2 linked regions of the Homo sapiens genome follow. The protein of the gene in region 2 purifies or fractionates together with the protein of the main gene of each other region. This does not show direct contact. Each region holds a gene or a part of one and is shown on either strand. Other genes may lie near its edges. The genes, in order: SNX3 and HEBP1.

Region 1 (2,984 bases), on a different chromosome or scaffold from region 2:
ACCAGGCCAGAGTCTATTTTAAAGAGGAGAAGATACAGGATTGAAGTTAGAAATACAATGAAGTTCAATAAAAGCCCAAAATACTAAAAAAACAGGCACAAATATCCAGGTATTTTGTTTGTTTTTGCCTGCTTAAAACCACACTGGGCAACCGGACTATTATTTCAGAATTTAAAAATATCTAATATAGGCCAGGCGTGGTGGCTCATGCTTGTAATCCCAGCACTTTGGGAGACCAAGGCAGGCAGATCACTTGAGGTCAGGAGTTTGAGACCAGCCTGGCCAACATGGCGAAACCCTGTCTCTACTAAAAATACAAAAATAAGCCAGACACGATGGTGCGCAACTATAATCCCAACTACTCAGGTGGCTGAGGCATGAGAATCACTTGAACCTGGGAGGTGGAGGTTTCACTGAGCCGAGACTGCACCACTGCACTCCAGCCTGGGCGACAGAGCAAGACTGTCTCAAAAAAAAAAAAAAAAAAATCTAATATAGTACTGCCTTCTCCAAAAGGAAAACAGATTCACAGACAATGAATATTGAGTGCTACAGTAGATAACCAAGGGCTTTATGTAACCCTTTCTCTCCTGTTTACCACTCATGGATCTTCAAATCACTAGATAAAATTTACAGTGTAAGCTCACATTACCATATTCTGTACGATTTGATTTACTTTTGCTAGTTTAAGGCCAATGCACAATTACAGTGAGGTCTTTCTTGGCATAAATCTTTCTAACACTCTGGCTTTCTATTATTTTACAAAATAGCTATATTTCAAATGGGAATAAAATTAAAAGCTAAAAATATTGGTTTGAGCTTATCAAGAGTTTCTAAAGTAAAAAAGAAACAATCCTAAGTCTTCTTACATTTTCAAAAGAATACATTTTACCATGAAAATTAAAAACATGCACCTTTATACAAGACATGCTAATACCTCCATCTGCAATCAAACAAGATGATTGCAAGTACATTGTAAGTTTTATTGTTCATGCTAGAACATACCTTAAATCAGAAAGAATCATAAGTAAAACTGTATTTTTTAAATGCCGTAATTTTAAATGTAATTTGCATAAATTAACCAAGAAAAACAAATACAAAACGTAGGTCAACACAAAGATGCTCATTTCAATCACTCAAATGTGTTAATATTTATCACATGATATTCAACTTGTCAGATACTTTTACTTTGTTTAAATGATATGAAAAGTTAGGAAATGGCTGAAAGAAAAGGCAACAGTGCAGTTTAGCTTAACATCTAAACTACAAGTAGTCACTTAAAGTAGTCCTACACTTTGAGGAATAGGAAGCACTTACTTGTTTATAAACTGCTCCAGCCCTTGTTTTCTTTCCTCAATAAAATTGTCATCAAATATTCCATCATCTCCTCTAAAAGGAAGCTGACGCAAAAACGCTTTCCCAGGGAGCGGGGGAACTACGACCTAAAATGTGAAGACAGAAACTCCTTGATCATGATGACTGGGTTGTGAAAATTTATAGAGCACAACATGAAGACAAAGCATGTCCTCACTATGACAGCCATCGTCCGGTCAAACTAGTTGAAATATAAAAGAGCAAAAAATACACTGAAAAAAGACCAAATGTTTAGACAAATGCAGAATAGCCCATCAGACAAAAGCTCCTAATTCAAAGGCAGGGCCCATAGCTTATATCATTTTTCTTGGCCTTATCAAAGCCCAGGTATACAAAGAGAACACTCACAACACTGAAATAAAGGTTACCATGCCCCTCAGACACTTGTGATGCCACTTGGAGAAGGCAATGCCTTATTGCAATGGAAACTGCAGAGATCAAAATCAACTCTCAATTAAATGAAGAAACGTTAATGTTCTCTCTGCAACATGGTTAGGTAAGAATTCTGGTTTCAGCCGGGCGTGGTGGCTCATGCCTGTAATCCCAGCACTTTGGGAGGCCGAGGCGGGCAGATCACAGGGTCAGGAGATCGAGACCATCCTGGCTAACACGGTGAAACCCTGTCTCTACTAAAAAATACAAAAAATGAGCCGGGCGTGGTGGCGGGCGCCTGTAGGCCCAACTACTCTGGAGGCTGAGGCAGGAGAATGGCATGAACCCGGGAGGCAGAGCTTGCAGTGAGTGGAGATCACGCCACTGCACTCCAGCTGGGCTACAGAGTGAGACTCCGTCTAGAAAAAAAAAAAAAAAAAGATTTCTGGTTTCTTCAACCTCTTACCATCTGCATACAGTCTTTCCTACTTGTGTTTGAGGTGATGACAAAATACCAATAACTCTAGTTGTCACTATTCTGTTTCCTAAATTAAGAAACAAGTCAACTTTCTCCCAAATGCCCTATCCTGCTGTCTTTTCCCAAAGACCTGTCATTTCTCCCTTCTCGCACTATAGGAAGATCCCAAATTTTCCCCTTCAAAGCCTAACCAAGGGTCAACTCCTGCTGATCTCTCCCTTCTGGGAATTATCTGGAGCTCAAATATTATTCTGGGCCAGGTGCAGTGGCTCACATCTGCAATCCCTGCACTTTGGGAGGCCAAGGCAGGCGGGAGGATTGCTTGAGGCCAGGAATTTGACACAAGCCTGGGCACATGTCTACAAAAATAAAAAAAACTTAGCTGGGTGTGGTGGTGTGAGCCTGTAGTCCCAGCTACTTAGGAGGCGGAAGTGGGATGATCACTTGAGTCCAGGAGTTCAGGACTGGAGTGAACTAAAATGTCGCTGCACTCCAGCCTAGGTGACAGCGAGACCCCGTCTTAAAAAAAAAATAAATTTTTAAAAATGTTATTCTGGAGCTCAAAATACTTGTTTTGATTAAATAGCACCTAGCTATTTCACAGGTTAGTTTGGTTTCTCTACCCTAGCACTACTGAGAATCAGATAAGTTTTGTACTGGGGGGCTTTCTTGTGCATTCTTTTCTTTCTTGAGATGGGGTCTTGCTCTGTCACCCAGGCTGGAGTTCCGTGGTGCGATCATGGCTCGCTGCAGCCTCCCC
Region 2 (3,825 bases):
TTCACAGACACTTTGCCTCATTGGTTCGTGCCTCAGCTTCCAATCTGGACATGGAGCACAATAACAGTGGGCCCACTGCTCTCCGAATTCCTGCGCGCACTTGAAGGTGAGTTAAGAAATGCTCATAAAGTGCTTTGAGCCCCTAAAAGAAAGAAACGTGAAGTCTATACATTATCTTTGTAAGCCTGTGAATACGTCTTTATCTATAAACGCCTCATCTTGAAAGAAGCTCTCCTCCAGGGCAGTGTTTTATCTCACCCAATGTCAGAGCTCAGTATTCTGAATAAAGAATTTGGTTACCATGGGAACTGAGGAATCTCAAACATACACACACCCCTGATTCCAGAAACACAACAGGAGCTGACTCAAAAGGTCTGGAAGAGTTAGAAAGGGGAAAGATGACACAAGCAATAGTGAAGGCTAGTGGAGGGAAGTGGGGCTTTCGTCCAAGGAAGCAAAAAATCATAATGTGTTATTTTTTAGGGAGTGTCTGGTGCAGGCATGCAGGGAGGAAGAATGACTCTGAGCTTGACCATTCAACTTCGAAACTTTAACATCAATGGATCAGCACACACTGGTGTACGGTCTGCTATGCATGCAGCCCTGTGCTAGGCAAAAGAAGTATCAGACCAGGAACTGACAGCCTCACTGCAACAGGAAGAGAGGCTTCACACAATAAGCGTTTCATTCAACCAGGCTGGACCTGTGCTTATTGAGTTGAACATCACTGAGCACAAAATGCAAGCCAGACACCATAAGAGCTGTAAGGATGATAAAGATGTCTTTCTACCCTCGAGAGCTCTAAGTGTGGTCAGGAGAGAAACACATGCAAAGATTATGCTGGCTGGAAGGAAATGCTGGAATGAAGGTGGAAGGTACATCCAGAATGTTCTGGGGGTGAGGAATAGCGAATGATGGGTTCTGACTTAGAACATGAAGGGAAGGTATTAAGAAAGAGGTGATATTAAGCATTTATTGAGCATCTCTACTTTTTTTGTGTATGTGACCTTGTTTGGAAATACAATATCTCTTCTTGATGCTGGCAATGAATAGTATGACAACCTTCTGTCCTCACAGAGCTTCCAACAAACAGAGGCTGTGGAGGGTTGAGAGGAGCTGGGGACATATGAGCAAAGGTCTGGAAGTGGATGTTGTGTCTGGGGTGGGAGGCATGTTGGGTGGTGGTGGGTGGGACGCTCTGAGATCAGGTTGACATGGGAGTGGTGCTATGTGTGGAGGGTGGTCAGTGCCATCACAGGGCATTTTTACTAGGCTTTACTGCCTGGTCAAACATTTGGCACCCAAAGTTGATCCACCCTCTCCTAGTGGAAATGAAGCATCTCATTACTAACTGGGCTTTTGTTCAAACCCCAACATCTGGTTGGATGGGCCTGAGGCCCCCAACCAGAGCTGAGCAGCCTCTGGGGAGGCTCAGTTTCTGAGCAAAGACAGGCGATGTGATCAGTCCTGTGCCTTAGGCAGGTGGTGATAAAAGGACACTTTAGAAGGGTCAGAAATGGGAGAGCTGGAAGCCAATACCATGGCAATCATTTGTGCAAGAGATGATGAAGACCTGTGTAGATGGAAGGGAAGGAAGGGACAGCTGGGAGCTGACCAGGATGAGCCAATAATTAGATGCAGAAGTGAAGGAGTCAGAATGACATTGGAACAGGGTGGGTAGGAGGAGGGAGGGGACCATCACTAAGACAGAGAACACAGAAAGGGATCTGATTTTGCGTGGAAATCTGCGTTGTGTTTTGGACATGCTGATTTGGGAGATACTTGAGGTGGTGATGCCTCCTGGGAGCTGGAAATATAAGGCTGGTGCTTAGGAGAGAAGGCAGCATGAGACGTGTTGACCCGGGCATCATCTACAGAGAAACAGCCTGAAGCCCTTGCCTGGTGGGAGTTTATAAAAGACTTACGGGATAACTGACAGCTATCAGGGGGAGAGAAAATGGTGATTAATTAGGCTGAGACACAGAATCTTATCATTGGCAAGGCTTTTGGACATGAGGTGGCTTAAATATTAGAGATATTTAATAAATGTTTGTCAAATCAAACCAAACTTCCCACCTAGTGCAAATGTCACATGGCATAAGTGTCACCCATCTATCCAGATGGCACTTGAATTCTTCCAGGGGCAAGGACATTACCTCATGACGTCCATTTTACTGTTAGACACCTAAAATAGTTCCTGGTACAGAGTAAGTGAACAAGAAATCCACTATCTTTTGAATGAAGGAATGAACGAGTGGGTAAATCACATTGTCTCAGGCTCCATGCTGAGTCTGATGGGATGGCAAGACATTCAGGGGAGACAGACAGAGGTTAGGCTGGAAAGTTACCAACACACTGGTGACAGCTGAAGCTATGATGGGGACCAAGATCTTTATGGGACAGAGCAGAGAGAGAGAAGCACAGGAGAGGCAAGGATGAAGCTCTTTTGTTCATGTATCCATTCACCAACTTGTTTTTGTTTTTTATTTAGAGACGGGGTCTCATTATGTTGCCCAGGCTGGTCTCGAACTCCTAAGCTCAGGTGATCCACCTGCCTTGGCCTCCCAAAGTACTAGAATTACAGATGTCAGCCACTGTGATGGCCAATTCAACAGCTTCTTATTGAACACTTGTTATATTCTAGCCAAAGGCCCTGCCCTTGGGAAGCTTGCATTCTAGTGGGGAGAGGGCAATAAATAAATGAGCAGATAGAGATATATAATGCAATTGATTATAAGTGAAGCAAAGCAAAATAAAGCTGGATAAGAGGACAGAAAAGGACAGGGTGCTATTTTCAATAGAACGGCTGGACAAGGCCCCTTTTAATCAAAGTGAGGGGGCAAAGCAGGGTGCTAAGACTGAAAACCCTTGGTCCCAACTTCCTGTGGTTACAAACAGGGTTGAATTATCTAGGAACATGGGCAAACACTGGTCTGTAAATCTCCTAAGTGGTAATGTGGGAACCCCCTAAGAGTTTAGCAGTTGAGCTCTTTCTTCCAAACTTCTCTTTCTCTAGGCGGAACTTCCCAAGCTGCCAATGGCCTCCATTGGGGCCTGGTCATTTAGAGGGAAAAATGACATCAGCAACCTAGGTGCTGACAGCTGACAAAGTTCTTTCAAATGCACAATGAAACCGGCCTTTGCAATCATGCCTTAGAAATCTTATTTTATAGATGAGAAAACTGAGGCTCAGAAAGATTAAACAACTTGCTGCAAGTTACAAAATTCATAATTATTGGAGCTGAGGTTCTAACCCAAGTGTATCTGCAGTAACTTTGACTTTTTTATTGTTAATTCTAATAAAACTTGATCAAATTCTCAAAGGGAGGTGAAGTTAGGAGGAGGAGAATAGGCTAACATTTACTGAGTGTCTACCTCATGTCTAGGATTGAGTAGGTATTTACAGGTATTATCATATTTTATCCTCACAACACCATAAAAGCTAGGTACTCATGCCCATCTTACAGATGAGGAAACTGAGGTACAGTGAGGCTGGCAATATACCAAAGGTCCTATGGCCACTGAATGATGAACTGGGTTGGAGCATAGGTTACCCTGAAAATAAACTCCTGGTTTCCAACTTTTTCCTTTATATCTAGACATTTCATTTAAACCGTGAAAGTTTCATTAAGACCATCAAACTTCTCCTGCTGTTGGTCCCTATTGAGAACCTGGTGCTGAAATGAGCTGAAAAGGCCAAACTCTAACTTAAGTGCATAGAGAAAGGACAGTAGTCTGGAATGTTGCTGCTGGTCTAAGTGTGAGGATAATTCTATTGCCTCTTGTGAATACTAAACATATTCTGATAGTGCTATTTTTTTTCAC

What was found.
Region 1: the proteins of HEBP1 (region 2) and SNX3 fractionate together in Homo sapiens (co-fractionation; one large-scale study listed by BioGRID). This does not show direct contact.

What each region holds. Positions count from the first base shown.
Region 1 is NC_000006.12:108,213,181-108,216,164, forward strand, and holds part of SNX3 (sorting nexin-3), read right to left. Parts: intron 1,443-2,984; coding exon 1,318-1,442; intron 1-1,317. UniProt on the Homo sapiens protein: Phosphoinositide-binding protein required for multivesicular body formation. Specifically binds phosphatidylinositol 3-phosphate (PtdIns(P3)).
Region 2 is NC_000012.12:12,979,517-12,983,341, forward strand, and holds part of HEBP1 (heme-binding protein 1), read right to left. Parts: intron 1,047-3,825; exon of another isoform or gene 484-1,046; intron 373-483; exon of another isoform or gene 321-372; intron 107-320; exon of another isoform or gene 1-106.